Linked DNA regions of Homo sapiens. The protein of the gene in region 2 interacts with the protein of the main gene of each other region in a pairwise test. Each region holds a gene or a part of one and is shown on either strand. Other genes may lie near its edges.

What was found.
Region 1: the proteins of ZBTB7A (region 2) and ZBTB5 interact in a two-hybrid assay, tested with the Homo sapiens proteins (one study listed by IntAct).
Region 3: the proteins of ZBTB7A (region 2) and ZBTB45 interact in a two-hybrid assay, tested with the Homo sapiens proteins (one study listed by IntAct).

The regions. Positions count from the first base shown.
Region 1 is NC_000009.12:37,453,500-37,463,737, reverse strand, and holds part of ZBTB5 (zinc finger and BTB domain-containing protein 5), read left to right. Parts: intron 1-10,238. UniProt on the Homo sapiens protein: May be involved in transcriptional regulation.
Region 2 is NC_000019.10:4,055,163-4,065,400, reverse strand, and holds part of ZBTB7A (zinc finger and BTB domain-containing protein 7A), read left to right. Parts: intron 1-119; exon of another isoform or gene 120-1,153; intron 1,154-9,879; exon of another isoform or gene 9,880-9,892; coding exon of another isoform or gene 9,893-10,027; intron 10,028-10,153; coding exon of another isoform or gene 10,154-10,168; coding exon 10,169-10,238. UniProt on the Homo sapiens protein: Transcription factor that represses the transcription of a wide range of genes involved in cell proliferation and differentiation.
Region 3 is NC_000019.10:58,515,679-58,525,742, reverse strand, and holds the start of ZBTB45 (zinc finger and BTB domain-containing protein 45), read left to right. Parts: upstream 1-5,932; 5' UTR 5,933-6,001; exon of another isoform or gene 6,002-6,126; intron 6,127-6,140; exon of another isoform or gene 6,141-6,724; intron 6,725-8,069; coding exon 8,070-9,348; intron 9,349-10,064. UniProt on the Homo sapiens protein: May be involved in transcriptional regulation. In the central nervous system, may play a role in glial cell differentiation.

The DNA.
Region 1 (10,238 bases), on a different chromosome or scaffold from region 2:
ATGTCTCTAGCAGAATTCTGAAAATGGTAAGATTTGGAGGAAAGGCATCTTACAGACTTAGGAGCGAACGCTCTCAAAAGAGACTCACAAGACTGTCCCCAAAGTGGAAGTAATAAAAAATCACTGGGATATCAAATAGTACTTAAAGAACTCAGCATGAATTATATCGAATTGGAGACTTTAAAATATCTTGTGTTCAGTGAAATTGACAAAACCTGGTGTAGTGCTGACAGAGAATCTTGAATCTGGCTCACATTCGTTTTGGAAATGGAAAAAAGAACCCAAGGTATTGATTCTATGTTAGCTTTCAACTTTTTTTTTAATGTAAATTAATTTTAAATACTTTCCCCCTCTGTCAGTTTTAAGCGTGTGATTTTTCTTTTACTGTACGTAATATTTCTCAAATATGGATGTTGTCTAGTAGAGCCAGTTTTGTTAGTGTAGCAGGTGGGATGGAATGTAGCACTACACTATGCCTTTTGTCTAAGTATGAAGTGAACTTCTCATCTCCTAAAAGACCAGCTGTTTCTGAGTGAACTATTGCTCTTTGCATATGTTCTCATCATTTTCACCACTGAATAGTAGCTTTTAATTTCAAGATCCAGTTTTAGAGGTGCCTTTCATTTTATTAGTTATACATGTATTTCCTAAAAGCTTTGATTTATCTTGACATCCCAAACAGATTAGGTTACTCTGACAATTCGAAGGGTGAGGAGGGCAGAGAAGAATTTTATTGAGTGATGGAACAGCTCTCAGAGAAGAGGGCATGCAGGGGGTGGTCTCTTTCCCAGTGTGGCTGGTTCCGGGGCTTCTTAGGGACTCAGAATGGGGAGTGTGTGCTGATTGGTTTCTGATGCAAAAAGTTTAAAGGGAAGGCCGGGTGTGGTGGCTCACGCCTGTAATTACTGCAATTGGGGAGGCTGAGGCGGGCAGATTGCCTGAGCTCAGGAGTTCAAGACCAATCTGGCCAACATGGTGAAACCCTGTCTCTACTAAAAATACAAAAATTAACCCGGCATGGTGACGTGCGCCTGTAATCCCAGCTACTCAGGAGGCCGAGGCGGAAGAATCGCTTGAGCCTGGGAGGCAGAAGTTGCATTGAGCTGAGAGCATGCCACTGCACACTTGGAGTCTTGGAGACAGAGTGAGACCCTGTCTCAAAAAAAAAAAAAAAACGGTTAAAGCAAAGACACCACTCAAAGGTGGGCACGACAGTGTAGAAAACCAATTAGGAAAGGGGTAGATATATGTAAAATAGGTGAAGGGTGGGGATCAGTCAGAGGAAAGCATGCCAAATGGGAACACAGGTTCTCAATCTGGTCCGTGGATTTGACTTGTAGCTTGGCTTTCAAGCTTTTAAACTGTCTTCGGCTTGGAGGTGGGGTTTCACTGGGGATGTGCCCCTGTCTGCCTAGGCATTTGTCTGTCTCCTGCCTCTATCATAGTAGTCATTGGCAGACAGTTTTCCTTCCTTGAAGACAGGATACCATAAGTAAGCATTATGCCATAGCTTAATTGGCAGTTTTTTTCCTAGTGTTACATGAAATAATGCATTTTATAATCACAGACATCTTAGATTTAATGAAATTTGGTAAAATTAATAGAATTTTAGCTCAGGTGGCACACACCTGTAGTCCCAACTACTTGGGAGTCTGAGGCAGGAGGATCACTTGAGTTCAAACCAGCCCAGGCAACATAGTAAAATCCTGGCTGCCTATCCCCCATAAAGAGACTTTTGTACCCAACTAATTCCTTGTAATTGTAACCAATAAATTTTCCTAATTCGTTTTCCTGCTCTGGAAAATGTTTGTTACTGAAAAGAAGCCTATCGAGCGTGATATTTTTCCTTATGTAAATGGAAATTAACAAATAAAATGTTCATTTTACAAATTTTAAAGGATGATTAAGTGATAGGTCTACTTTTTGGAAATTATACTTGGTAATCTGTTACTTTGTATGGTAACAGGTTTACAAATGCCTTTATTCCTAATTTACTTTTTTTTTTGAGACAGGGTCTCACTCTGTCACCCAGGCTTGAGTGCAATGGCATAATCTGATCTCGGGTCACTGCAACCTCCGCCTCCTGGGTTCAAATGATTCTTGTGTCTCAGCCTCCTGAGTAGCTGGGACTACAGCTCGTGCCACCATGCCCGACTAATTTTTGTACTTTTTGGTAGAGACAGGGTTTCGCCATGTTGGCCAGGCTGGTCTTGAACTCCTGACCTCAGGTGATCCGACTGCCTTGGCCTCCCAAAGTGCGTGATTACAGGCATGAGAGCCACTGCACCTGGCTGATTGCCATTTTCTTAAGTTTAAAATGTTTAGGGTGAGTTGCTCCCCTTTTTTTCTATGCATGATATTGTTGACATGGTATAATTAATTTTTCAGTACATCTTAGTCAATTATAATTTAAAATCCACTCAACCATCTTCCTCTAAAAATACAAGGCTTTCACCTTTATAGTCCTTATGGTTTAGTCTTTTTTGCGAAGAGGATTTGAGGAAGGAAGACCAGGAAAACAAAATCCAGTGTTTGGGCATTTGGTTGTGGGAGGAGCCCAGAAATGCTACAAAAATCTAAACACATTTAAGTTACTTAGATTGTACTTATTTTGAATAGATGATCAAAAGCAACTCTGCAGGTCAAGTGAAGGTCACTTGCTGAGCATTATTGATTTGATAAATGATTGAGAAGTGAAGGCATATACTGCTTTGAAAGTAAACTAGGTGTAAGAAATGGATTAAGTCCATGTTCATCTTCTCTGTTGGAAAGGCACCATAATAATAGTGTCTCCAAAGCTTTGTCATAGTTTTCATCTTGATAAAAGTTTAGTTTTTTTTTTTCTTTCTACTTTGTTCTGTTTTGCTTTTGAGATAGGGTCTTGCTCTGTCACCTGGGCTGGAGTGTAGTGGGATGGTCATAACTCACTGCAGCCCCAAACTCCTGGGCTCAAGCAACCCTCCCCCACCCAGCCTCCCAAGTAGCTGGGACTACAGGCATGCACCACCACGCCCAGCTAATTTTTGTATTTTTTGTGGAGGTGGGGGTCTCCCTATGTTTTCCAGGCTGGTCTTAGACTCCTGGACTCAAGCATTTCTCCCACCTTGGCCTCCCAACATGTTGAGATTATAGGCGTGAGCCACCATGCCCAGCACCCAGCTAATTAAAAAAAAATTTTTTTGTAGAGAAAAGGTTTTGCTATGTTAACCAAGCAGGTCTCAAATGAGCCTCCCGCTTCAGCCTCCCAAAGTACTGGGATTACAGGTGTGAGCCCCGCATCTGGCCTAATTTTTTTGGGGGGGGAGTGTTCACTCTTATTGCCCAGGCTGGATCCAGCGCAATGGCGCGATCTTGGCTCACTGCAACCTCCACCTCCCGGGTTCAAGCGATTCTCCTGCCTCAGCCCCCGAGTAGCTGGGATTACAGGCATGCACCACCATGCCCGGCTAATTTTTTATTTTTGGCAGAGACAGGGTTTCTCCATGTTGGTCAGGCTAGTTTCGAACTTCCGACCTCAGTTGATCCACCCGCCTCGGCCTCCCAAAGTGCTGGGATTACAGGCGTGAGCCACTGTGCCTAGCTGGACTAATTTTTTTCATTAAGAAAGAAGTTTCTTGGCCAGGCCCAGCATTTTGGGAGGCTGAGGTAGGCAGATCACAAGGTCAGTAGCTTGAGACTAGCCTGGCTAATATGATGAAACCCAGTCTTTACTAAAAATTAAAAAAAATGGCCTGGCGCAGTGGCTCACGCCTGTAATCCCAGCACTTTGGGAGGCCGAGACGGACAGATCATGAGGTCAGGAGATCGAGACCATCCTGACTAACAAGGTGAAACCCCGTCTCTACTAAAAATACAAAAAATTAGCCAGGTGTGGTGGCGGGCGCCCGTAGTCCCAGCTACTTGGGAGGCTAAGGCAGGAGAATGGCATGAACCCGGGAGGCAGAGCTTGCAGTGAGCCGAGATCGCACCACTGCACTCCAGCCTGGGCAACAGAGCAAGACTCATTTCAAAAAAAAAAAAAAAAATTAGCTGGGCATGGTGGTGCACGCCTGTAATCCCAGCTATTCGGGAGGCTGAGGCAGGAGGATTGCTTGAACTGGAGGTTGCAGTGAGCTGAGATTGTGCCACTGCACTCCAGCCTGGGTAACAGAGTGAGACTCTGCCTGAAAAAAAAAAAAAAGTTTCTTGATCTGTCAGGGGTAAAAGACATGTTTAAAAGTTGTTTATGCTACACATCAGTTGGGATTGGAAAGAAAAGAAAACTTTTTTTTTTTTTTGAGATAGAGTTTTGCTCTTGTTGCCCAGACTGGAGTACAGTGGTGCGATCTTGGCTCACTGCAACCTCTGCCTCCCAGGTTCAAGCGATTCTTCTGCCTCAGCCTCCCGAGTAGCTGGGATTACAGGCATGTGTCACCACGCCCCACCAATTTTTTGTATTTTTAGTAGAGACGGCTTTTCTCCATGTTGGTCAGGCTGGTCTCAAACTCCTGACCTCAGGTGATCCACCTGCCTTGGCCTCCCAAAGTGCTGGGAGTACAGGCTGAGAAGCAGGGGCTGGCATGCCCATGCCCTGTTTTACATTTTTTGTAAATCTCTTTAATATGTAGTTTAATAGAAGACAGCTGGATTCCATTAAATGCTTCTGCATTCATTTTGCCGTGATACACTATTTTGATTAAAATATACCAAAAAACTCCAGCATCACACAAATATGTAGTTGGAAAGGGAGGATTATTTCAGTAGATTTTTCAGATAATTTTGGATATTCTTACTCTGATACTGTACCAAAACTCCACAAGTGGTATTTTCTTAAGTGATTAGTGCAATGTGGAATCTGAAATTATGTCAATGAACTTTTCATATTCTGTTGCATTAAAATACATTAGCTTATGTTTTGTACCTTGAATGAATTTTTACCCATACCTTGTTTTATAGCATTATTGTTACATGGCTACATGGTCATTTGGAAAATACTGATTTCAGAGTTATGCAGATCTTCCAAACGTTGACTCATTTATTATACAATGTAAAAAAATCACATTTCATTAATATCACCAATGATCTGTCAGAAGAATTTGAGCATGTGGGAAGCTGTCAAGCTCACAGTGACAGATACAAGTTTTCCAAAATACTAATTTTCACCTGAATTCTCAAACTTTTTTATTGGCAATAAGTAGTACTAAGTTATCTTATTTAAAATAACAGGCTTGTTTCATTCATTTTTTCATTCATTTTCAAGAAAATGGTAAATACTTCTAAATAACCATAGTTTGTCATTCGTTCTTTCAAGTAAAAATAGTGTCCCATGAGAAAAGCAATTAGTTGAGCCACCTCAAAAACTGCACAAGTGCTTTTTCTTGAGGCAACTTGTATTTCAGAATGCAGGAGGAAAACTTCAGGTGTACTTCCCATTTTATCACACATATTGAAAACAGGTACTCAAGAGTTGAGACTTAATAACAGATGTAGGGAAGGGGAGGCTGGGTCTCCATTGGAGTGAGCATTTGGTTAGTAGTAGCTGTGTTCAGCACAGATGTTTGGCATTCTGACCTGATTGTTCCTGCTGCCTAGCTTAATTTCTTCCCAGTTCAATCTTACGTATCCAGCCTTCCCATCAATTCCATGATCAAACTAATAGCCTTTCAGTAAATTACTTTTATGTTTAGGATCAATTTTTGTTGCTGCAACCAATGACTCTGGCTGATGTGCTGCTTAAACTTAAGAAAAAAACCCTAAAATACTTTTTAAGAAAGTAATCTCAAAAGTGATGATAGCCTTTAGTTCAAAAGTATGTGCCTCATGGTTAACCTTTCTGATGACTTGTAATTATTAACATCAGTTATGAGCAGTCACTATCCAATACCTACCTTTCTAGCCATACTATTTTCCAGCCAAATCGAATACATTGCTTTACCCACCTCAACCCCTTCTCCACCTTTACCTCTGTCTAGGGGTTTGTCCAAATCCAACCAAGACCTAGCTCTGTTGTCAACGCTACCATGAAGCTAGAAATAACCTTTGCCTTCTCCAAACCATTGAGAGGTTCTTTCACCTCTTATGTGGCACTTAGTGCCTTCCACTTTGTAATATCGTTATTCATGTATATCTTATTTCCACTAAATACCTGTGACAGTTAGTACTGTCCCATACAAATCTATGCTCCACAGCGCTTAACCTTGAACAAGTAAGCACTTTAAAACATTAGATGATGCTGGCATGGTGGCTCACACTTGTAATCTCAGCACTTTGGGAGGCCAAGGTAGGAGGAATACCTGAGCCCAGGAGTTCGAGACCAGCCAGAGCAACATAGTGAGACCCGTCTCTACAAAGAATAAAAAATTAGCTGGGCATGGTGACGTGCCTGTAGTACCAGTATTTGGGAGGCTGTGGTGGGAGAGTCACTTGAGCTAGGGAAGTGGAGGCTACAGTGAGCTGTGATTGCACCACCACACTCCAGCCTGGGTGGCAAAGCAAGACTCTGTCTCAAAAACAAAACAAAACAAAAAACATATTACATGAATGAACTTGTATACAAAAAATACACAAGTACCTTTATGGGCTGTTGAGGTCCCTTGAGCTGTATACTACCTAGCTCCAAGCTGCTGGGCCTCTTTTCCCCCTTAGTGGGTCAGCTGTCTCTTTCTGCAGCTATCAGCTTAACTTCATTTAAGCAGCCACTCCTTGCTCTCATTCTGGAGTTGCTGCTTCAGTTAGTTAGGGAACTAGAAAAACTTGAATTTTGTTTCGAACAAAAGACTGTGTGAGGGCTTAAGGGACTTTCCTATGAGAAAATCTTTCATCCATAGTCTTTGATCTTTATTTTGGATATTCTGAGACTTTTTCTTCTGGTTTTTGGCTGATTTTAGAGATAGTTGTGATTCTCAGAAAAGTGATTTTTGGGTAATACATTATACTTCATCCATATATAGCAAAAGTTTATTCAGCAAATAATTTACTGAGTATTTTATGTCAGGCACTTTGAGAGAGAGAAAATACAGTTCCTGCCCTCAATAAGCTGTTTTAGTAGAAAAAGCATTTGAGCTTGTACTAGGAACCTAAGTAGGGCACTAATACCTTTTCTTATTCAAACTGAGTTACAGAGCTCTAGGTCAATTCATCCCTAGGGATTTTGGCCTGGAAAACAAGGTGGCAATGTGGAGAGAATTGGAGAGTTAGGTGAGATGGTCAGGGCTTCCAGCTCGCCTTCCTCAGTCATGCTCATCTTTAGTCACTAGTGGAATTTTCCTGTTTTATAGAACTAATCTGTTCAGTTTCTGAGCCAACCCTGACAGAGCAGAACCAGAGATATTATGACATTAGTCATGCTGACAGGTCTGGTTTCTTGGGGTTAACCCAGGCATCATTGTGCCCACCTAGTTCCAGCCTTCCCCTACTCCCACTTTGCTGGTCAAATTAGAACAATGGATGGATGTTCCAGTACTCCGCTCTGTCTGACTTGGAGCCCTGTCAAAATTCCTAGCCTGGGCCAGGTGGGTGGGTGGCTCACGGCTGTAATCCCAGCACTTTGGGAGGCTGAGGCAGGTGGATTGATTGAGCCCAGGAGTTTGAAACCAGCCTGGGCAACATGGCAAAACCCCCTATCTACAAAAAATACAAAAATTAGCCAGGCATGGTGACACGCACCTGTAGTCCCAGCTACCCAGGAGGCTGAGGTGGGAGGATCACCTTGAGCCTGGGAGGTCAAGGCTGCAGTGAACCGTGATCAGGCCACTGTACTCCAGCCTGAGTGAGAGAGTGAGATCCTGCCTCAAAAAAAGAAAAAAAAAAAAATCCTAGCCTGCACTTCCGGAGCCTGTGGTAGGAGGATTGCTTGAGCGCTGGAGTTCAAAAGCAGCCTGGGCATATTGAGACCCCACCTGTATTTAAAAAAAAAAAATCCTAGCCTACTTGAGTGGGTCCTTGCTTTGTTCTGCTCTCTGACTTTTGTTTTCATCTATATCGTCTCTACAAGTGGAGGAAATGTTCTGTCTAGTTATTTTTCTGCTGATGAAATGGGAGAGTTCTCTGAACCCCCCTCGCAGGACGTGTGACAATGATGTGGCTCGTCTGTTTGGCTGCCACCACTGCTAAAACCCTTTACAGGAGGAGGAGCACAGAGACAGGCAGGGGCAGGAGCTGGGGCAAGCTCTTTTAGGCTCTGGCCCCACGGTGGCATCTAGGGGTGGGTGCCTGCAGCTCCCGAAGCCCCATTGGGCATGCTACAGTGCTCTTTTAGCTTGCCATATGCAGATGGGTTAAGTGTTAACCAGCTCAGTACCTTCTTGGTATTTGGGTTCTTGTCCAGCATCCAGGAAGAATTGGGTCACACATGGACTTGAAGGATGGTGTATTCGGGATTTTATTGGATGATGGAGGTGGCTCTCAGTGGGATGGATGGGGAGCTGGAAAGGGGATGGAGTGGGAAGATGATCTTCCCCTGGAGTTCGGCTGTCCTGTGGCCGATCTCTCTGACCATCCCCAGCTGAATGGCTCTTGACATTCAGATGCTCCTTCTCTTCTCTCCTTGGCCACGCTGCTCTTATGCTCCTCTGCACATTCTGTTTGTCTGCTCATCTGCCTGTGGAACCTGGGGTTTGGGGTTTATATGTGTACAGGATAGCATGGTGTGGCAGGCCAAAAGGCAACATTTGGGTGCAAAAACAGGGATGCCTGTTCCCATTTAGGGCCACAGGTTTCCAGGCTTGAGGGTGGGGCCTTAGCTGGGGTACTGCCTTCTTCTACCCAGCATTTCCCTGTCTCCTGTCCATATCACTAGGGTTTTTGTTTTTGCTGAGCCCACACAGAAGTAGGATCTGCTAGGGTTTTATCTAGATTGGGCTACTGAATGTTAAGGATTCCTTAGAATGTTAATTTGCTTTCTGCAGGTGACAACTGTGTGGATCCTGCCTGGCAGGCAAGCAGCAAATTACTTGATATGGTAGTAGATGATGTTTGAGTATGGGTGCGGTTTTTGTTATGAATGAAGTATATTATTGAGAAGCATGTGGGTATATCAGTGTATAAATTAAATAGTTTAAAATGTGCTGGCTTGTTCTCCGAAGACAGAAAGGAACTTTATTAGCCTAAGTAAAGCATTATTAGAAAAGTAAATCTATTGAGAAAAGTCATCTTTTGATTATTCATGTTAATGTAATGGACAGTAATGAGAGTGTATTTTCTTAATTATATTTAGTTTTGAAATTCCTAAATATTTGTTCCTGCAGATAACAAATACTGAACTTTACACTTGCTTTGGGTTAGACACAGTTATACATCAGTAGATTGCTTGCCACACTCTCCTCCAGCTATGTTGACTCATATTGTCACATTTTGGAGCCTTTTAAAGAGACCTGAAGCCTTTTTCCTTGGTTAGAAGGCTTCAGACAGGCAGCTTTGGGTAAAACTCTTAATTTACTCAGCCTGAGCTCTGTTAAGGCTTTTAGACTGGCCTTCTGACTTTGCTAGAATTACTTGAGAGTTCTGAGTAAGAATGATCTTGATTCATGATTCCCTTCCATCAGAGCAGATAATAGCAAATTTTATATCCCCCAAATGAACTGAATTTTTAAAATATTCCCTCTAGATCCAAAAAAGTTCTAAAGGTTTTGAGATAGCTGTATTATATAGGTTTTCCTGGGAGATGTAATTTGAACTTCATGTTTGACTGTGTGGCAGAGATCCAACACAAACCAGGTTAAGGTAAAAGGGGAGTTCACTGGCTCATGAAACAAGTCCTAGGGTGGTGCCAACTTTAGTCATACCTGGATTCCAGAGTCTTGATACCTTCTGGACAGTGTTTTTGGTATCACTCTCTTCTGTGTTGGCTTCGTTCTCAAACAGGCAAAAATGGTCACTCTCAGTGCTGGATTTATAACTCCCTCACAGTTTGTAATCTGGGTTGAGATAGTCTCTTTCTTGATATACCAGCAAAAGCCCACAGGCAGACTCCATTGGCAGAACTTGGGTCACATACCCAAGTGATTGTCTGAAACAATCACTGTAATCAAGGAGAGTGGGTACCAAGTTGACTGGGTCTCCCTGGATCCTCCGTCTCCTGGTAAACTCAGGTGTTTGGGGCAGTTCGATCTGTACTACATGGACTCATGGACTAAGAATGGGTGGGAAGTGATTTTCTCCAATGACATAGAGGGACCCCCTCTCCCCGAAAAGGTGGAGATAGTATTTGAATGTTGATTTGTGGGGAAATGGTAAAAAAGTTTCACACCGTTACAGTTACT
Region 2 (10,238 bases):
GGGGGACCGCGGGCCGGGCGGGGGCCGCGCGCTGCGGCCGGGGCGGGGGAGGGGGCCGCTTCCTGCCCCCGCCCGGGCCTGACTCAGCCCCGGGTGGGGGGCCTGGCCTGGCCCCTCGCCCTGCCCGGACGGCCGTCCGGCTCCGACCCGCGGGAGGGGGCGGAGAGAGCACCCCAGTCCCCGCCGTCCGCGCCCCCAAAGCGCGTGACCCCGTCTCCTCTGGCCCGGACCCCCCCTCCTTTCCCTTGACGCCACCACCACGTGCGAAGCCTGAGCCCGGGCAGGGGAGGGGGGAGCTGGTGGGATCCAGCCCCCTCCCTCCCGCTCCCTACCTCCCGGGCGGGAGACCCAGCCCCCCCGGCCTGGGAGCCTGGCTGGGGGCTGAGCGGAGCGGAGGAGCGGGTGCCCCCCCAGGGACCGGGCCTCTGCGGGTTCTGGGAGGCGCTGCCCGGGCTGGCTGGCGGGGGCGCACGGTGGGCCGCGGCGGGAGGTTGCTGTCCACCCGGGCCCGGACACCCAGTCGGCGCCCACTAAATGTTGGCGGAATGCAGCCAGGAGTTGGCGGCGAGGCGGGGGGAGGCAGCAACTCCTCTCCCCCCAGTCAGGCGGCGGAAGTCACAGAGGTGCTGGTGCCCCTGCCACCCGCGGCACCCACCTGGCTCACCCATGGGTGGCGGGCTCGGTGGGCCCCCCCACCTCCCTGCCAGCTGCCTCCGGAGAGGGCGTGGGGATTCCGTGTCAGTGCCCCCCGCCCCAACCTCAGAACTGGACCAGGGCGTAACCCTGAGCGTGCCGCTCCCACACTGGGGGTGCCTCCCCACCACCGGCCGATCACTTCCTATTGGCAAACTGGTCTGGGAGAGGTCCCGGGGAGGCCAGGCTGGGGCAGGGGCCCAGGCCAGGCCAGGCCTAAGCCCAGCCCTGCTGCTGCCAGGGCCTGAGGGCTTCAGGCCGGGGGCGTTTGTCCGCGAGGGCCACCCGCCATGGGGCCCCGAGAGCACCTATCGGCGGGGCCGGGGCCTCTGTTTACCACCAGCCATCGCTGTGGAGACAGAGCTTGGGGGAGAAGGGGGGGCAGGAGCCGGCCGCTGGAAAAGCGAAGTCTAAGGAAGGAAAGAAGAGCCAACCGGGACACTGAAATTTTAATTCGTGGGTCAGTCCGGGGGGTATTTATTATTCAGTTCCGATTGGCTGCGTGGCGGCCAGTCAGCACCTGGGCCCGGGCGGGCAGCCACGCATCGGCAGAGGCCCGCGGGCGGCCGCAGGCAGTGGATGGGTCCTTTGCTCTGTGCGGGAGACTGAGGCGCGGCCGAGGCAGAGCCCAGCCTGGGGCCTGGTCGGAAAGGTTCCTGGGGCGATCACAAATCCCTGCTGGGTGTTTGTTTGTTTGTTTGTTTTTTCCTTTTCTTTCCTTGAGTCCCTCTGACCTATAGCTGGGTCCACCTGGTGGCAGATCCCCGTTGCCATATGAGGAGGAAACCAAGGCCGGGAGGGGAGGTCAAATGTGAGCCTGGAAACTCCGGAGGTTAGAGCAAGCCTCGGAGCAGGTGCCGGTACTAGGCAGGGGAGACTGAAGCGTAGGGGGAAGCAGAGAGCGGCCCAAGGTCACTCAGGTGGGGTCAGAGCTGCCCCCTGTGCTCCATCCTTCCAGCTCGGGGCCTGTCCAAAGTCCCCTCCCACTGTGTGGTGGCCCAGGGGCGCCTGCCCACCTGTCTTTAAGCAGGGCCGGAGGTTGGCAGTAGAGGCTCAACTGCAGGCACCTGCCTGCAAATGGAGTGTCACCGAGGCTTATTAAACCCTGTGTCCGAAGATGACATTGAGGCTCAGAGAGGGCCAGCATGGCTCCCAAGGTCACACAGCACGAGCCACAGCCCTCTCGCCTCCCTGCCTCACCGGGCAGGCCCTGGCTGGCGCACGTGCATACGAGGCCCCTCTGCAATCCTGCCGAGCCACAAACTCGTCTCACCTTGGTCCTCAGAGGCGGGCAGGGCTCTGGGTTTTATGACCAGAGGAGACCGAGGTCACCTCCCCAGAGCCAGCCCACTGCAGCCCAGATGCTCCAAGGAGGGCTCCTCAAGGGTTGGAATGCTGGCACGCTTGCTCTGCGACCTTGGATGAGCCCCGTGACCCCTGCAGCCGGGGCGCGCTGTGTTCCTGGGGCTGTGGAGGGTCCCCCAGCTGCTGCCTGCAAAGCCACCCGTGGTGTCTTTTCTCCTCCGCGGCGGAAACTCCCAGGTCAGCTCAGGGCATGGCAGAGACCTGAGTGTGGGGTGTGGGTCAGAACTGCGTGAGACACCTGCACCCCCACCTGTCACCTGCCAGACCATAAACTGCCCTGCAGTAGCCCTGGGCAACAAGGACAAGAGGAACGAGCTTGGGTGGGGGTGAGCCTTGGGTGGGGGTGAGCATGGTCCAGTCCTAGCCCAGCCCTTGGGTCCACCCCAGCAGTCACTCCCCCTCTGCCAGCCTCAGTCTTCCCATCCAGACAGTGGGGAGATGGTCATCAGCCCTAGAGTGTTGTCTCGAGGGTTCGCTCAGCGGCTCATTGGGAATGCTTGTTGAGCGACTACTGTGCACTGTGTCAGGCCCCTGCGGAGCTGTCTTGAGAGCTGGAGGGGCAGAGGCCCCTCCCTGAGCCACCCATGTCAGCTGGACTCCAGCCCTGCCCCAGGCTCCTGTGTGAGAGCTCCCTTGCAAGGCAGCTCTGAGGGTATGAGGATAAGCCGTCCTTCCTCTCAGCCCCCAGGGTAGGGGGATTTCATCTCCTGCTGGTATCCGGGGGCCAGGAAAGGGGATGGAAGGAGCCGTGGGAGGACTAGTTAGGCAGGCCAGAGCCAGACAGACGGCCCGTGCTCAAATTCCAGTTCTGCTGCGCGACCCTGGCCAAGCTGCTCCCCCTCTCTGATCCCGTTCCCCGTTTGCAAAATGGGGCACAGACACAGATCCTGCCTTCCAGCGCTGTGGGTGCCGTCACGTACCGTGGGTCTCTGGGGCGATTATCAAGGCCCAGCCTCCCCCAGCTGCTCCGAGGAGCGGCTCTGGCCCTTGGGCCCCGAGCGCCGAGTCCAGAGCCCCAAAGCGCAGAAGGCGCCCCTCAGAGAATCCGGCGCTCGGGAGGAGCGTGGCCAAAGGACCAGCCCCTCCATCTGTCCCCCCAGCAGGCTGTGGACGGCCACTCGGTGGAAGTGTCGCCACCCACGCCTTTCTGGTTTGACTGGAAAACAAGGCCCATCCCACCTATCAGGATGCCTGAGAGAAGGATCTGGCCGGATTCTGCAGGCCGCCAGGCTCCCAGGCTGAGCCTTCCACCTGCTCAGGCGAGAGTGGGGGTGGGGCAGGTATCTCCAGGTGACAAGCAGGCCTCCCTCAGGGGAGGGAGAGAGAGGTCACCTCGGCCTCTCACAGGCATCTCAGCTAAGCAGGTGCAGCCTGGGCTGATGGCAGGGTGGACAAGGATGGGCTTCCGAGAGTCTGGCCTTGCTTGCCCCCAGTGACGGGAAGCTCAGCCCCTCCACTGTCGTCATGAAGCTTCCTCTTGGAACCTGGGCTCGGGCTGTAGTCTGGGCTTCCTGGCCCATGACATCTCAGAGTGTGGGAACAGGGTGGGCCTCAGTCCCGCCCATGAGTTGGGCGTCAGATGGGATCCCCCTGGCCTCCTCATCGCTGCCCCCATCCCCGCTGTCACACTTCCCACTGGGTCCCCACGGCCTTCCTGCCTCTGGCCCTTTAAGGCCCAGGCAGGAAGCCCCTCCCCATTTAGGGCAATAAATGGACACGTAAAATGGCCGAGGGCCTGTTTGCTCCATGTCTGGCCCAGAGGGAGGCCTGCGGGCGAGGGCAGGCGGGCAGGGGGCGGGCTGGCAGCTGGCAGCCACCCCAGGCCGTTGGTGCCCCCCGATCGGGACACTGCATTCCTGTCCCATTAAACCCAGGCCGAGGACTGGGCCAGGCGGGGCTTGGCACCAGGTCAGGGCGGGGTTACCCGTCGGGACCAACCTTGCAACACAGGCCGCTGGGCGGGGAGGGGGCGGGGGCTGCCGGGTGCGGGCCTGGCAGCCGCACCTGCACACCAGGCTTACAGTGTGACCTTGGGCCGGCCGCCCACCCTCTCTGGGCCTGATCTCCCCTTCCAGCTTCCTCCTCAGGCCCCACCACTCACTCCCTTGGTAGGTGAGGAGGGGACTGAATTCCCGGAATAGCATTCAGGAGCAAAGTTCCCATCCGTGAGGGGTGGTGAACAGCCTGGCAATGTGTTTTGGGGACTGGCTCTGGCGCACATTAGGTCCCTGGGCTAAGTTTGCTGAATGGATGTGAGCGGGACCCTGACCACAGTGGGGGGCCCCTTTCCACTGTTACGACCCCCATCCCCCAGGAGACAGAGGCTCAGAGAGGTCTCGCATCTTGCCCAAGGTCACACAGCTTGGAGGTGGGGGAGCCGAGGCTTGAACCCGAGCTGCTCTGCACAGCACATGAGGGGTGAGAGGTCCCTTTGGCCTCCTTCCCTGCTCTCCCTGGGCAGAGGGTTGGGTGGGGGCCCTGATCCCCTCATTAGACGGCCCCCTGCTCCAGGAAGTGACCTTCGGGAAGGTGGCGGGTGGCAGTTACCTGCCCAGCCCTCACCTTGTCGTGTGACCTTGGGGAGGCCCCTGGCTCCCACACCCTGCACTAGCGATGCAGCCTCCTCTCTGCCGGTCCCCCTTCCCCGGTCGCCCACCTCCAGGCCTCAGTTCCTGATGCTCCCCGTGCTGGGGTGCCCTTCTTGGGATGCCGGGGTCCTTCCTAGGCGACATCTGCTGCTCCCTGAGCCACGTCAGGGTGCTTCCGAGCTCACGACACATCCCCCGCAGCTGGGAAGTGGCAGCTGCCCAGATCAGAGGGCTGCTGTGTGACCTCGACTGGGCCGCCTCACCTCTCTGAGCCTCTCAGGGACCTGGGGAAGACGAAGTGAAGGTGCCCAGTTAGTTTGGGAGCACAGAGGGGGCCGAAATGCGGCCCGGGTGCCGTGGCTCTCGACAAACACTACAGCAAGTGACCCTTAGGTTAGATGGGAGGTGGGACCGGCAGGCTGCACAGCCCCCTGCTTCTGGGTATGCCTGGCAGCCAGCTGGGTGGGCCGGGGCGTGGGCTGTCTCTGGTTTATCCGGCGGTTTGCTGCGCCCCTACTATGCGCCACCCTGGGAGGGTTGGGCTTAGGGGCCTGGGAGTGGCCCGGGGGGAGGAGGGCGCCCCACCTCCAGCCCAGGAGGGGCCTGCCAGGGCCTGCCCCTCGGCCGCCGAGTCAGCACCAAGCAGCCCCGGAAATCCCACGGAGGCCAGCGCGGGGGAGGAGCTGTGATGAAAGATGGGGCCCCGGGTGGGTGTGGGCCGAGCCCAGGGGACCCTGGCCGGCAGGGGTGGGGACCTGGCTGGCGTGGGGCCGGGGCTTCCTGGAGGAGGGGAACGAAACCGCCACCTCCGGAGGCGTGTACCGTGTGTCGGGCGCACAGTGGGGCTTCAGCACTCGGGGACTTTTTATTGCCAAGACTTTGTGGCCCCCGCCGGGGGTGCTCTGGCTGGGCCCGGCCTCCCCTCTCCCACCTCGGAGGCAGGGTCTTCGGCCCTTTCCTTAGGGGAGGCCTCCAGGAGGCCTAGGTGGGGGCATTGGCGCAGGGCGTGGCCGGCAGGTGGCTTGTGTTCCTGGAGTGAGGGCGTGGGTCAGTTGTCTCAGAGCGAGTTTAGTTTCCAGGGCGAGGGCAGGGCCTTGCCCTGGGTGGGTGGGGGGACCGGCCCCTCCATCATTTCCTGGCCCCCAGCCCCTGGGAGTCAGCCCTGCCGGGCATCCTTAGGCCAGGACTGCAGCCCTCTCTGGGCCCCGGCATTCTCATCTGTAAAACGCGGCCACAGTCCTCTCACGGGGGCTTTCCTTGGCTGACATCACCCCGGGCCTCGCTGCTTTGAGGGAGGGCCTCAGTGATATTTAGGGGGGAACAGGGGCCCAAGAGAGGGTCCCAGGCTGGAGAGGGCAGAGACTGGGACCCCCGGACCCAACCTGGAACTGGGATCTTCACACTGGCGGGGACCTGCAGGAGGTCGCTGAGCCACCTGGATTATTTTGGGCCCATCCTCCAGGCCCCAGGAAAGACACCTCCCAGCCACTCCAGAGCGGGGACCCTGGTCACCCGAGGGGAGGAACGGCCCAGCAGGCCAGGGATAGCCATCTTGGGGCGTTGGTGGCCTGGGTCAGAGGTCTCCCCCCATGCTGGGGTGGGTAGGAGGGCCCGGGCCCGTCTGATCCGGAGCTCCATCTGCTCACACGCTCCCCGCGGCCCAGGGCCAGACGGCAGATGGTGGCAGGGGGTGGACACCACCAAAGGGGACTCCTCGGAGGCTTCCCAGGGCCGAGCCTTGGGTGGGGTCGCTCCCCTCCTACCCTCCCTGCTCCCAGCAGCCACATCTGAGCCCACCGCCCCACCACAGGCCTTAGAGTAGACGGGGGTGCTGAGCAGCTGGGCCCTGGGCCGAGGCTGGAAGGAGGGAAGGAAGGCGGGTGGAGGGGCCTGGGGAGCGTGGTGGCACTGAGCAAGCTCACAAAGGCCTCTGTGTCGCCTGGCAGCTCAGGCCCCGCGCTGAGGGCCCTGGGCTTTGGGTCCGGCTGGACCGACACCATGCCTCCCTTGTGGGGCCTGGCTCAAGCCCGTCGGCGTCAGAGCCTGCCTGAGCTGCTGGGCTGGGGGACAGGAGGGTCTGGTGGCCCGGAGGAGGCCATGAAAGGCCCAGCTCAGGCCCTCTCCCCAGGGGCCTTGCCCAGGGGCTCTGGCCCGAGAGCCACCGGCCGGCCTGGAGGAATGTGAGCTGTGCTGGGTGACTCGGGGCCGCCAGGGGCTCCCAGGAGAGGGCGGAGGGGTGGGGACAGGGGCCAGAGGGTTGCACAAGCTCCGAGTGGGTGGATGAGTCACAGCCGAGGGGAAGGCGGAAAAAAGGGAGGGGGAGAAAGGGGTGGGACAGACACAGTCCCCCCAGGGCCCGGCGCTGCCCGAAACCTCTGCCCATTTGACAGATAGGGAGACTGAGGCCCAGAGAGGGCCAAGGCCTTGGCTGGGGCTGAACAGCTCAGCTGGGGTGGCTGAGAGTTGGGGAGGGGCTGCCAGGCAGTCCTGTGGGCAGGCAGGAGGTGGACAGGGGTTCCCCCGGCTCCCTGCTCCTCCTGGGCTGTAGCCCGGTCTCTGTTACTCACAGCCAGGGCTGAGCCCTATGCTGGGGGCTCTGAGGGGCAGGAAGGGGTTTAGCCTGCGGAGTCACTGGCCCTGTCCGGACGGGGCACACCCACGGTGGCCTTGACCTCAGCTGGGTTTCGGCACTGGGTCCCCGTGCCTGGGCTGCCACACCCCTTCCTGCTGACTCAGAGCCCCCCTGAAAAGAACCAGGCCTGACCAGGAGGCAGGAGTCAGGGTTGGGGAGGCCAAGGGGTCGGCTCTTAGGTCCACTCTGGGTTTGAGTTTGGACGCAACTGTGTCCTCATGGTGGGGCCTCGGGCAAGTGGCCTCAGCTCACGACGGAGTGGGTGCTGCCGGTGGGGTTCGGGTGGAACTGGCGGGAAGTAGGTGTTATGTGTTGTTGTTATTGTTTTTTTTTTTTTTTTTGGAGACGAGTCTCGCTCTGTCACCAGACTGGAGTGCTGTGGCGTGATCTAGGTGGCTCACTGCAGCCTCCACCTCCTGGTTCAAGTGATTCTCCTGCCTCAGCCTCCCGAGTAGCTGGGACTATAGGCCCGCGCCACCAGGCCCAGCTAATTTTTTGTTAGAAATGGGGTTTCACCATGTTGCCCAGGATGGTCTCAATCTCTTGACCTCATGATCCACCCACCTTGGCCTCTCAAAGTGCTGGGATTACCGGCGTGAGCCACCGCGTCTGGCCATAGTAGGTGTTTTGTAAAGGTCACTGCGTGGCCTCCCCTCTGTATCGGCCGAAGCCCGTGCTCAGATCAACAGGAAAATGGCTCAGATCAGGGCACTTCTCTCGAGCTACTGCGTCCTCCTGTAGCGCCTCAGAGTGCCCTTTCCTTATTTATTTATTTTTCCAACACGGAGTTTCGCTCTTGTTGCCCAGGCTGGAGTACAATGGCGCAATCTCACCGCAACCCCCGCCTCCCGGGTTCAAGCGATTCTCCTGCCTCAGCCTCCCGAGTAGCTGGGATTACAGGCACGCGCCACCACACCTGGCTAATTTTGTATTTTTAGTAGAGACGAGATTTCACCATGTTGGTCAGGCTGGTCTTGAACTCCAGACCTTAGGTGATCCGCCTGCCTTGGCTTCCCAAAGTGCTGGGATTATAGATGTGAGCCACAGTGCCCAGCCCTTTTTTTTTTTCTTTTTCTTTTTCTTTTTTTTTTTTTTTCAGACCGAGTCTCGCTGTGTTGCCCAGGCTGGAGTACGGTGGCTCCATCCAGGTTCACCACAACCTTCGCCTCCCGGGTTCAAGCGATTCTTCTGCCTCAGCGTCCTGAGTAGCTGGGATTACAGGCACGCGCCACCACGCCTGGCTGATTTTTTTTTTTAAGACGGAGTCTCGCTCTGTGGCCCAGGCAGGAGTGCAGTGGTGCAATCTCGGCTCACTGCAACCTCCACCCCCCAGGTTCAAGCGATTCTCCCGCCTCAGCCTCCCGAGTAGCTGGGATTACAGGCACGTGCCATCACGCCCATCTATTTTTGTATTTTTAGTAGAGACAGAGTTTCACTGTGTCAGCCAGGATGGTCTCGATCTCCTGACCTGGTGATCTGCCCGCCTCGGCCTCCCAAAGTGCTGGGATTACAGGTGTGAGCCACCACACCCAGCCTAATTTTTGTATTTTTAGTAGAGACAGGGTTTCACCATGTTGGCCAGGCTGGTCGCTGGTCTTGAACTCCTGACCTCAAGTGATCTGCCCACCTCAGCCTCCCCAAAATGCTAGAATTACAGGCGTGAGCACCGAGCCGGGCCTCAAAGTGCCCTTTCAACAGGCATTCCCGGGGGCCCTCCTCGGAGGGGTGGTGCCAGTGTGCTTGTGAAATTTAAGCGTCCAGTGTGGGTTTTGCCAGCCTCATCTCACGCTGATGAGACAGAACAGGGCATCTGACTGCTCTTGGGCACAGCTAGGGAAACTGAGGCTGATGGGGGGCAGGAAACCTGACTGTCCTCATGCACAGCTGGGGAAATTGAGGCTGGGGGCAGGACAGCTGGCCGCCCTTGTGTACAGATGGGAAACAGGTTGGGAGTGGGACACCTGATTGCCTTCCTGTACAGCTGGGGAAACTGAGGCTGGGGACATGACGTCTGATTGCTTTTGTGTACAGCTGGGGAAACAGGCTGGGGGAGGCAGGACATCTGACCATTCTCATGCACAGCTGGGGAAACTGAGGCTAGAGGATAGGACATTTGACTGCACTTGGGAACAGCTGGGGAAACTGAGGCTGGGGAGCCGGGACATCTGGCTATCCTCATGCACAGATGGAAAACAGTCTTGGCCGGGTGCCGTGGTTCATGCCTGTAATCTTAGCACCTTGGGAGGCAGGGGCGGTTGGATCATTTGAGGCCAGGGTTTTTTGATTTGTTTTGTTTTTTTGAGATGGAGTCTTGCTCTGTTGCCCAGGCTGGAGTGCAGTGGCGTGATCTCAGCTCACTGCAAGCTCTGCCTCCTGGGTTCATGCCATTCTCCTGCCTCAGCCTCCCGAGTAGCTGGAACTACAGGCCCCCGCCAACACGCCCGGCTAATTTTTTGTATTTTTTAGTAGAGACGGGGTTTCACTGTGTTAGCCAGGATGGTCTCCATCCCCTGACCTCATGATCTGCCTGTCTCGGCCTCCCAAAGTGCTGGGATTACAGGCGTGAGCCACCGCGCCAGGCCGAGGCCAGGGGTTTGAGACCAGCCTGGCCAACATGGTGATAGCCTGTCTCTGTATTAAAGACACACAAAAAAGAAAAGAGGCTGGAGGCAGGGCATGTATCGCTTTGGTGCACAGCTGGGGAAGCTGGGGCTGGAAAGGCGCGACATCTGACCGCCTTCACGTGCAGGTGGGAATGTGAGGCTGGGGGAGCAGGGTGGAACGCTGCTTCTCAAGGGCCTCGGGCCCTTGTCAGTGGGCACAGGAACCCCCGCACCCCCACTCACGAGCGCCCTCTCCTTCCCCACTGCTGCAGGTCTCGGCGCGGAAGATGGCCGGCGGCGTGGACGGCCCCATCGGGATCCCGTTCCCCGACCACAGCAGCGACATCCTGAGTGGGC
Region 3 (10,064 bases), about 54 Mb from region 2:
TCTTTTCTCGGTTGTAAATTTTCCTTGCCCCCACCTGCCTTTGTTAACAGCCCTCAATACCTGTATGGATGCTGTTACTTTTCTGGTAAATCCCAACGGCAACTTGCCTGGTCCCAGCCATTGCTTCTACCACCTCCCTGGCTCCACCAGGGCCTGGGGCTGGGCCTCCCTCCAGCCTCTCTCTAAGCTGCAGCCTCAGAGGACTTTCTGGAGTATACAGGGGATCCTGCCATTGCCCCTTCACACCTCACACGGCTCCCATGTCTTCTCTGTCCCATCAGAAGGGCTCAAGTCTTCACTGCTGCTATTTGCCTTGCCAGGGACCACCCCTCAGCCTCCGCTGCTATCTGCCTTAAACCAGGAAGCATTTCTGCAGGTATATGCTTAGTGCCTGCTCCTGTGTGTACTCATTTAGTACTTGAAATGCCCCCACAACCATTGTGCATGGATCATGGGACCTGTATTCCACACCTGGCACAACCCAAACCCACTAGGATGGGGCCGGGTTTGTGGACACAAGGACTTGAGTATGACTGCCAAAGAGGGGGAGCCTGGATGAAAGGCTGGCCGGGAAGTGATGGAGGGTGGAGGGAGGTTGGGATCCTGACTGAGATGGAATCAGGCACAGCCGAGAGGTTCTGGAAGACTCCTTGGTGGGAGCTGTCTGTTCTCTGACCCATGCTGTCAGAGGGGCCCTGCCTTAGCCAGCTGAGGAGGCCCAGTCACCCTGGAGCTCAATTTCTTCTGCTCCTTTCACATCTGTGGTCACTGTGCTCTCACAGACTCTTCCCTCAATGGCCACCATTTCCCATCTCAGGCCTTGGGCTTAGCCTGGAATTGTTTTTTTGTTTTTTTTTTTTGAGACGGAGTCTCACTCTGTCGCCCAGGCTGGAGTGCAGTGGCGCAATCTCGGCTCACTGCAAGCTCCACCTCCCAGGTTCACGCCATTCTCCTGCCTCAGCCTCCTGAGTAGCTGGGACTACAGGCGCCTGCCACCACGCCCAGCTAATTTTTTGTATTTTTAGTAGAGATGGGGTTTCACCGTGTTAGCCAGGATGGTCTCGATCTCCTGACCTCGTGATCCGCCCGCCTCGGCCTCCCAAAGTGCTGGGATTACAGGTGTGAGCCACTGCACCCGGCCTAGCCTGGAGTTTTTAATATTTGCAGGCCACATCGCCCTCCTCCCTAGCTTGTCAAACCTGTGTTCTCAGGTACACATTTATTCCTTGAAATGCCCCCACAACCAGGGTTAAGGTCTTTGGGTTCATACACACACACACACACACACACACACACACACACACACATATATGAACACACACACACACACACACACATATATATACACATTCTTTTTATTATTATTATTATTATTTTGAGACGGAGTCTTGCTCTTGTCGCCCAGGCTGAAGTGCAGTGGCGCGATCTCGGCTCACTGCAACAACCGCCTCCCGGGTTCAAGGTATTCTCCTGCCTCAGCCTCCCGAGTAGCTGGGATTATAGGGGCCCACCACCACCACGCCTGGCTAATTTTTGTACTTTTAGTGGAGACGGGGTTTTGCCATGTTGGCTAGGCTGGAACTCCTGATCTCAGGTGATCTGCCCACCTCAGCCTCCCAAAGTCCTGAGATGACAGGCATAAGCCACCGTCCCAAGCCCTTTTTTTTTTTTTTTTTTTTGAGACAGAGTCTCCCAGGCTGGAGTGCAGTGGCGTGATCTTGGCTCACTGCAACCTCCACCTCCTGGGTTCAAGGGATTCTTCTGCTTCAGCCTCCCAAGTAGCTGGGACTACAGGCCCCTGCTACCACGCCCAGCTAATTTTTCTATATATATATATTTTTAAAGATGGAGTCCATATCCTGGCTAACACGGTGAAACCCCGTCTCTACTGAAAATACAAAAAAATTAGCGGGGCCTGGTGGCGGGCGCCTGTAGTCCCAGCTACTCGGGAGGCTGAGGCAGGAGAATGACGTGAACCCAGGAGGCGGAGCTTGCAGTGAGCCAGGATTGCGCCACTGCACTCCAGCCTGGGCGACAGAGTGAGACTCCATCTCAAAACAAACAAACAAACAAAAAAGATGGAGTCTTGCTCTTGTCTCCCAGGCTGGAGTGCAATGACAGCTGATCTCTGGCTCACTGCAACCTCTGCCTCCCAGGTTCAAGCTATTCTCCTGCCTCAGCCTCCAGAGAAGTTGGGATTACAGGTGCCCGCCACCATGCCCAGCTAGAGATGGGGTTTTCACCATATTGGCCAGGCTGGTCTCGAACTCCTGACCTCAGGTGATCCACCTGTCTCAGCCTCTCAAAGTGCTGGGATTACAGGCATGAGCCACCGTGCTCGGCCAATTTTTGTATTTTTAGTAGAGACCGGGTTTCACCATGTTGGCCAGGGTGGTCTCGAACTCCTGACCTCAGGTGATCCACCTGCCTAAGCCTCCCAAGGTGCTGAAATTATGAGATTACAGACGCCACCACAGACGCCACCACGCCCAGCCTTGTGAAAAGATCTTTAGAGAGAAAAGGAAAATAACCCTTGAGGCTGCAGCTCTCACCTCCCTTGGCTGCTTGAGAGAGGTCAGGGTTTGGTTTTTCTCCTTCCTGTGTTCATCCTAGCCCTTGGGCAGGGTCTTCCACCCCTATCTTGCCCTAATCCTCCAGGCCCCATCCCTTGGAGCTGAGACTTTCTCTAAAGCCACCCGTGTCCTCTCCTTCCTACCCTGAATCTGTCCCTTTCTACCCTTCACTGCTGTCAGGGCAGCTATTGTTTCCTGCTAGGACTCCTGCGTTTGCCACCCCACTAGGTGCACTGTCTTCCCTACAGCCCCTTAAACATGCTAATGGGGCTAATGGGACATGGCTTCCCCCCCTCAACACACTGCAATCCTGCCACTCAGCCCAAGGTTCACTCATTTGTCTTGCCCAAGGGAGGGCCGTCCTCCCTCCTCAGAGGCCTCATGCATGCCTTTCCCACCTACCCTTATGCTCTTCCCAAAACTCAGCCCAGTGAAAGCAGACCCAGTGGGTCCAGCAGGCCATGGTTTGAGTCTGAACAAAGACGATGATGGCAGGTTATTAGACTTGTGTGTTTTTTGTTGTTTTTTTGTTCTGAGACGGATTTTCACTCTTGTTGCCCAGGCTGGAGTGCAATGGTACGATCTCAGCTCACTATAACCTCTGCCTCCCGGGTTCAAGCGATTCTCCTGCCTCCGCCTCCCAAGTAGCTGGGATTATGGGCACCCGCCACCACGCCCAGCTAATGTTTTGTATTTTTAGTAGGGACAGGCCGGGCACAGTGGCTCATGCCTGTAATCCCAGCACTTTAGGAGGCCGAGGCAGGCAGATCACCTGAGGTCAGGAGTTTGAGACCAGCCTGGTGAACATGGTGAAACACCGTCTCTACTAAAAATACAAAAATTAGTGGGGCATGGTGGTAGGTGCCTGTAATCTCAGCTACTCAGGAGGCTGAGGCAGGAGAATCGCTTGAACCTGTGAGGCGGAGGTTGCAGTGAGCCAAGATCGCGCCATTGCGCTCCAGCCTGGGGGACAAGAGCGAGACTTTGTCTCAGAAAAAAAAAAAAAAAAAGTAGAGACGGGGTTTCACCATGTTGTCCAGGCTGGTCTCAAACTCCTGACATCAGGTGATCCACCCGCCTCGGCCTCCCAAAGTGCTGGGATTACAGGTGTGAGCCACTGTGCCCAGCCTAGACTTGTGTTTTAATGAGGTTTCCCACCTGGTACATATTTTCCTCCCCCTGACCTCCAAATACCACATCTACAACACAATCACCCAGTAGCTGTCCTGGGTGAAGGACAGGCATCCTGACCCTGTCTGTCTTCTGGAGGCTTTGTTCTAGTCATGCGTTTGGACAGTTGGTTCCCTCTTTCACTGCCGAGTCCCTCTGTCCTCTGGGATAGGGGAAGTGAGAACTGCTCCCTGAGGAATGAGATCACGAAGGGGCCTGGTAAAAGCTGGGAAGGCACAGAAATAAAGCTTTCAGTGAGGGAAATGTGAGGAATGCGTTCATCAGATGGGAAACAAATAGTGGCATTTATTGGACTCTCACTGTGTGGAGGCCCTGGATCTCACCAGATGTATTTGTTTTCTATCGTTACTATAACAAATTACCAAAACTCCATAGGTTAAAACAATATCCATTTATTAGCTCACCATTCCATAGGTCAGAAGCCCAAGTAGGTCTTCTGTGGGTCTCATAAAGGCTAAAATCAAGGTGTGGTATGGACTAAGCTGCTATCTGGAGGCTCTGGGGAAGAATTTGCTTCCAAGCTCATTCAGGTTGTGGGCGGAATCTAGCTCCACGCACTTCTAGGGCTAAGGTCTGTTTTCTTTTCTTTCTTTCTTTTTTTTTTTTTTTTTTGAGACTGAGTGTCGCTCTTTCGCCCAGGCCCGACTGCAGTGGCGCTATCTTGGCTCACTGCAAGCTCCGCCTCCCGGGTTCACGCCATTCTCCTGCCTCAGCCTCCTGAGTAGCTGGGACTACAGGCGCCTGCCACCGCGCTCGGCTAATTTTTTTTTGTATTTTTAGTAGAGACGGGGTTTCACCGTGTTAGCCAGGATGGTCTCGATCTCCTGACCTCATGATCCGCCCGCCTCGGCCTCCCACAGTGCTGGGATTACAGGCGTGAGCCACCGCGCCCGGCCTTTTTTTTTTTTTTTTTTTTTTTTTTTTTTTGAGACGGAGTCTCGTTCTGTCGCCCAGGCTGGAGTGCAGTGGCGCGATCTCAGCTCACTTCAAGCTCCGCCTCCCGGGTTCATGCCAGTCTCCTGCCTCAGTCTCCCGAGTAGCTGGGACTACAGGCGCCTGCCACCACGCCCAGCTAATTTTCTGTATTTTTAGTAGAGATGGGGTTTCACTGTGTTAGTCAGGATGGTCTCGATCTCCTGACGTGATCCACCCGCCTTGGCCTCCCAAAGTGCTGGGATTACAGGCATGAGCCACTGCGCCGGGCCATGAGGTCTGTTTTCTTGCTGGCTGTTGTTGCAGCTCTTCTCAGATTCTCAGCATGACACCTGTCCTGTTGCATTTCCTCTCATGGACCTCTCTACCTTCAAAGCCTCTGGAACCCTTCTCCTACTTCAAGTTTCTCCACCTTCCTCTTCTGCCTTTAAGGACCCTTATGATACCTTGGACCTACCAAAATAATCCAGAATCATATCCTATTTTAAGATCAGCTAATGAGTAACCTTAATTATTTCCGCAAAAACCCTTTCACCATGTAGTGTAACTATTCATAGGTGAGATAATCATATTTACAGGTTCTGGGGATTTGGGCACGGAAATCTCGGAGGGGGCCATTTTCGGAATTCTGTCCCCCATACCAGATTGACTTGCAATGTCCCAGAATCTCACAGGGTCTAGCTCAGGGGAGGCCCAGAGCAGGGTGAGGCAGTTGTCTATTCCTGTCTGCGTTGTAGTAGAAGGTGCCAAGGCCGAGATGGGGTCCTTTCCCCAGTCCCACCCACAGCGGGCGGGCCTGGAGCGTCTGCAGTAGTGGTAGCTTGCTTGCACCTCCTGGCGGCCAGGGACCGAGACCTACTTCAGCTCTCACCCGTGTCACAGGAATAAGGCCACTTCCCCGGTTCGCAGTGGGGTTTAAACTGGCCAGAACACGTTGGGCACTTGGGCCGGGAACTGCCTTCCCATTCTGCATCACAGGGAGCTTGCGGATTGATCGCGCAGGCCCGCCACACCCCTGATCTCCTGGGCGACGCCGGAAGAGTGCTCTGGTCCAGACATTCCTCGCGACGCGGCAGCCCTAGCCTCTTCGACTTTGGTTCCGACTAAGAGGAGAGCCGGAGTGCAGACTGGCGGGAGCTGATCGCCATAAAAATACCGGAAACGTGCTTCGGCCTAGGGTTTCCCCTGCGCCGCCGCGACCGCAGGCCTCCGTTCCGCCGGGGTAACGGCCCGGAAGTGCGGCCTTGTAGTCGGTCAGGAGGAAGCGGCCACGGCAGAGCCTGGTGCCTGAAGAGGAGTCGGAGGTGGGGTCGAATGGGCATCCCCCTGCCGCAGGGCGGGCGAGGAGGCTGGGGCGTGCCAGGGGAGGGGCACCTGCGCTCCGCTAGAAGCGCACGCTGAGAACGCGAGGGGGCGCTGCAGGACCGGGGTACGGCGGGGGCCAGAGTGCGGGGTGGCAGCGGCGGGTCAGAGGGGTGCTTTGGGCGTAGGGTGGGGCGCGGGCAATGGAGCAGAGTATGGGAGAACGCGCTCGGAGTAAAGCACACGGCGCGGCGAAGGCGTGGCGGGAGTGTGCGGCGCCGGACCCGGGAAGCTGGCCTGGGCGCCGGGTCTCGAGTGCAGGCCTTTGTTCTGAAGTGTCCAGGCCGGCCTTGCGGCGTCGGGACTGAGGAATGGAGCCCGTCGCGGGGCGGGGCGGGAAAGGAAGGTTCAAGTCTCTCGGGTTGATGCGCAAGTTTCCGTCCCCATCGGCCGGACAGATTAGAATCCTTTCAGGTGCTAGGTGAATACAGATGGGGCGGTGCTGCTTGCTGAGTTAGCCTTTGCGCGGGCACAGGCCTGGCTTTTTTGAGGCATTGCACAGAAGGCTCAGAACAGGGCCAGGGAGCGGGGTGGTGTATCCGGATCCGTAGTCTGGAAAAGCTCCCTCTGGCTGCCGTGTGGGGAACAGAAGGGGAGGCGAGGGGCGCAGAGACACCAGCCAGGTTTCTTCATCCGTCCAGGACAGCGGGAACGGGGCAGTGGAGGTGCTCGAAGTGGTCTGAGGGTCAAATGTGGGGCATGCAAAAAAGGGAGGCGTCTGGCTGAGCAAAGGGACGGCGGATTGGGCATAAGGAGTCGGAGGGGTTGAATCTTGAGACCCCAGTAGAGCCCGAGGGTGTAGGGGCAGCATCAAGCCGAGCCCACCCTGGGGCTTTGTGACTCCAAGGGAGAGACAGGCTGGTGGAGCCTATACGGATGTCAGAGTCCAGAGCTCCTACCCTCCTCCCTTAGACTGGAGGTGTGTGCAGTCTGGGTGCGGGATGAGCCGAGTATCTCATCCCTTGTTTGATAGAAGGGGAAACAGGCCGAAGGATCACGGTTTACCTGCTTGATGGATGGAGTAGCAGAACTCCTCAGATTCCAGAGTCCTCTGAGGACTACCCCCTCCCCTTTCTGGTGCCTGATGTTGGGCCGTGTCCCCGATTACTCCATGGGCAGCTATCCAGTCACACACCCCTGCTCAATCCACACTTCCCCTCTCTGTGCCACACCCACACCCTGGGCCCCACAGGCCCCATCGAGATGGCAAGAAGCTGGGGCTGCAGGAGCCACCTCCCTGCTCGCTATGCTAGGGGCTGCCAGGGAGCATGTACTGGTTTCCCTGGGGCATCTCCCAAGGTACTGCCCAACCTTTTACCCTCAGCCCTTAGTGACTAGGCACACCCAGAACCACCCTGCCCAGGAAGCAGGTCATGCCACCCCACTCCTGCGAGAGCCTCTGTATATACTAGTTAAGGTGACCTGGTTCTGAGGCAGCAATCCTGCCTATGCACAGGGTCTCATACTGGGGGGATGTGGCTAAAGGAAACCAAAAGGAGCTGTCAGCAGGGGTGGAGGAGGAGTGGAAGCTAGCTGGGTAGAGAGCAAGGTCTACTCGGGGTGAGGCAGGTTAGCCAGTTGGGATGGGGGTCCCTGGCCTCTTCTACACACCGGGCTGCCCTCTTGGAGGGGCACATGGGGAGGCTTAGGGTTATTGGAGTTGGGGTGGGGTGGGTGGGTGAGTCAACATAGAGTAGGCCAAGGCCTGAACCTTTTCGGGAGCAGTGATTGAGGCCAACACCCTCTCCTAGGGGTGTGCTAGGGTTTGCAGCGTTAATGGGGGGCTGTAGACGGCCTGGCCAGGTCTGAGGTAGGGGGAGGAGGGAGTGCTGGAGTGTCCTGTGTTGGGAATGGGGACTGTGAAGGGCAGCTGGGGAGGGATGGGTTAGCGCGCCTTGGAGTGTGGTGCACTCGAGCCCTGTCCTGCAACAAGGGGTGAGGGGACAGGGACGTTGGGACAGATGGGGGTCCTCAGTTGACCTCTCCCTGCCCTCCTCTTGTTCTGTGCAGATGGCGGCTGCAGAGGCTGTGCATCACATACACCTGCAGAACTTCTCACGCTCTCTGCTTGAGACCCTCAATGGGCAGAGGCTTGGGGGACACTTCTGTGACGTGACTGTGCGCATTCGTGAAGCTTCGCTGCGTGCCCACCGCTGCGTGCTGGCGGCCGGCTCACCCTTCTTCCAAGACAAGCTGCTGCTCGGCCACTCTGAGATCCGTGTGCCTCCGGTGGTGCCCGCGCAGACAGTGCGACAGCTGGTAGAGTTCCTGTACAGCGGTTCGCTCGTTGTGGCGCAGGGTGAAGCCCTGCAGGTGCTCACGGCCGCGTCAGTGCTTCGCATACAGACAGTTATCGACGAATGCACGCAGATTATCGCCCGCGCTCGAGCCCCGGGCACCTCTGCGCCCACGCCCCTGCCCACCCCTGTGCCCCCGCCACTCGCACCTGCGCAGCTGCGTCACCGCCTGCGCCACCTGCTGGCTGCACGTCCCCCGGGGCACCCCGGTGCTGCACACAGCCGTAAGCAGCGCCAGCCCGCGCGTTTGCAGCTGCCAGCGCCCCCAACACCTGCCAAGGCTGAGGGGCCTGATGCTGACCCCTCACTGTCCGCGGCCCCTGATGACCGAGGTGACGAGGATGACGAGGAAAGTGACGATGAGACCGATGGCGAGGATGGCGAAGGTGGCGGCCCAGGCGAGGGCCAGGCACCTCCTTCCTTCCCAGACTGTGCTGCTGGCTTCCTCACTGCTGCTGCTGACAGCGCGTGCGAGGAGCCCCCTGCACCCACTGGCCTCGCTGACTACAGTGGTGCCGGGAGAGATTTTCTTCGGGGAGCTGGGTCAGCTGAGGACGTATTTCCAGACAGCTATGTATCCACTTGGCACGACGAGGATGGCGCTGTCCCCGAAGGCTGTCCCACTGAGACCCCTGTCCAGCCCGACTGCATACTGTCTGGATCCCGCCCGCCTGGTGTGAAGACCCCAGGGCCGCCCGTTGCACTCTTCCCCTTTCACTTGGGTGCCCCTGGGCCACCCGCACCACCCCCTTCAGCACCATCGGGGCCAGCCCCTGCGCCCCCACCCGCCTTCTACCCCACACTCCAGCCCGAGGCAGCCCCCAGTACTCAGCTGGGGGAGGTCCCGGCTCCCTCTGCTGCTCCCACCACGGCCCCCTCAGGCACCCCTGCTCGCACCCCAGGTGCTGAGCCACCTACGTATGAGTGCAGCCACTGTCGCAAGACGTTCAGCTCCCGGAAAAACTACACCAAGCACATGTTCATCCACTCGGGTGAGCCAGGGCGGGGGAGGAGAGGGAGCAATCTCTCATCGGAGAGTTAAACCTGAGGGGGAATTGAGCACTAGTTACAGGGCACTGGCACTGTTCTGTTACTTTTGGTTAGCAGGGGGCCTAGAAATTGAGCCTTCCCCCAAGTGCAAGGTATGTGGGGGAGGGGAAAGCCCCACTCTGTGGAGCAGCAGGCACTGGCTTCTGTGGAGGGGGATCCTGAGGCTGGGTAGGGAAGCAGGAGCCTGTCCTGGCCTTTGGAAGGGTGGTGGTGGAAACTTGAGCAGCCTGGGATGCACATGATGGGTATGGAGCCTTGGCAGGAGGTCCTGGCAGGTTGGGAAACTATGCTCCAGGGAGCCTCCTGTGTCTCTCTGGTTTCCAGCTGTCCCGTTATAGGCTGGCAGCAAGGGAGGATGGGTTTACAGGCCCAGGGGTAGAAAGCCCTCAGAGGTGGTGGGATGAAGGCCCCAGGAACTCCTGAGACTGGGGCATGAGTAGGAAAACATAGGTAGTGTGGGGACTCCACAGCTGCAGAGGACCCCGAAAAGCTGTGGGGAGGTTCCCTCGGACCTTGGCCGTGTCAGGGAGGCGGCTCTGCAGTGCTGCAGGAGAGGTAAAGAGTGGGAGGGTGGTACTGGGGAATGTGGTGAGGATGCTCCCTGGGGGCTCTGAGATGGAGGACAAAGGAATGGAAAGCAGAAGCCTGCTGAGCATTG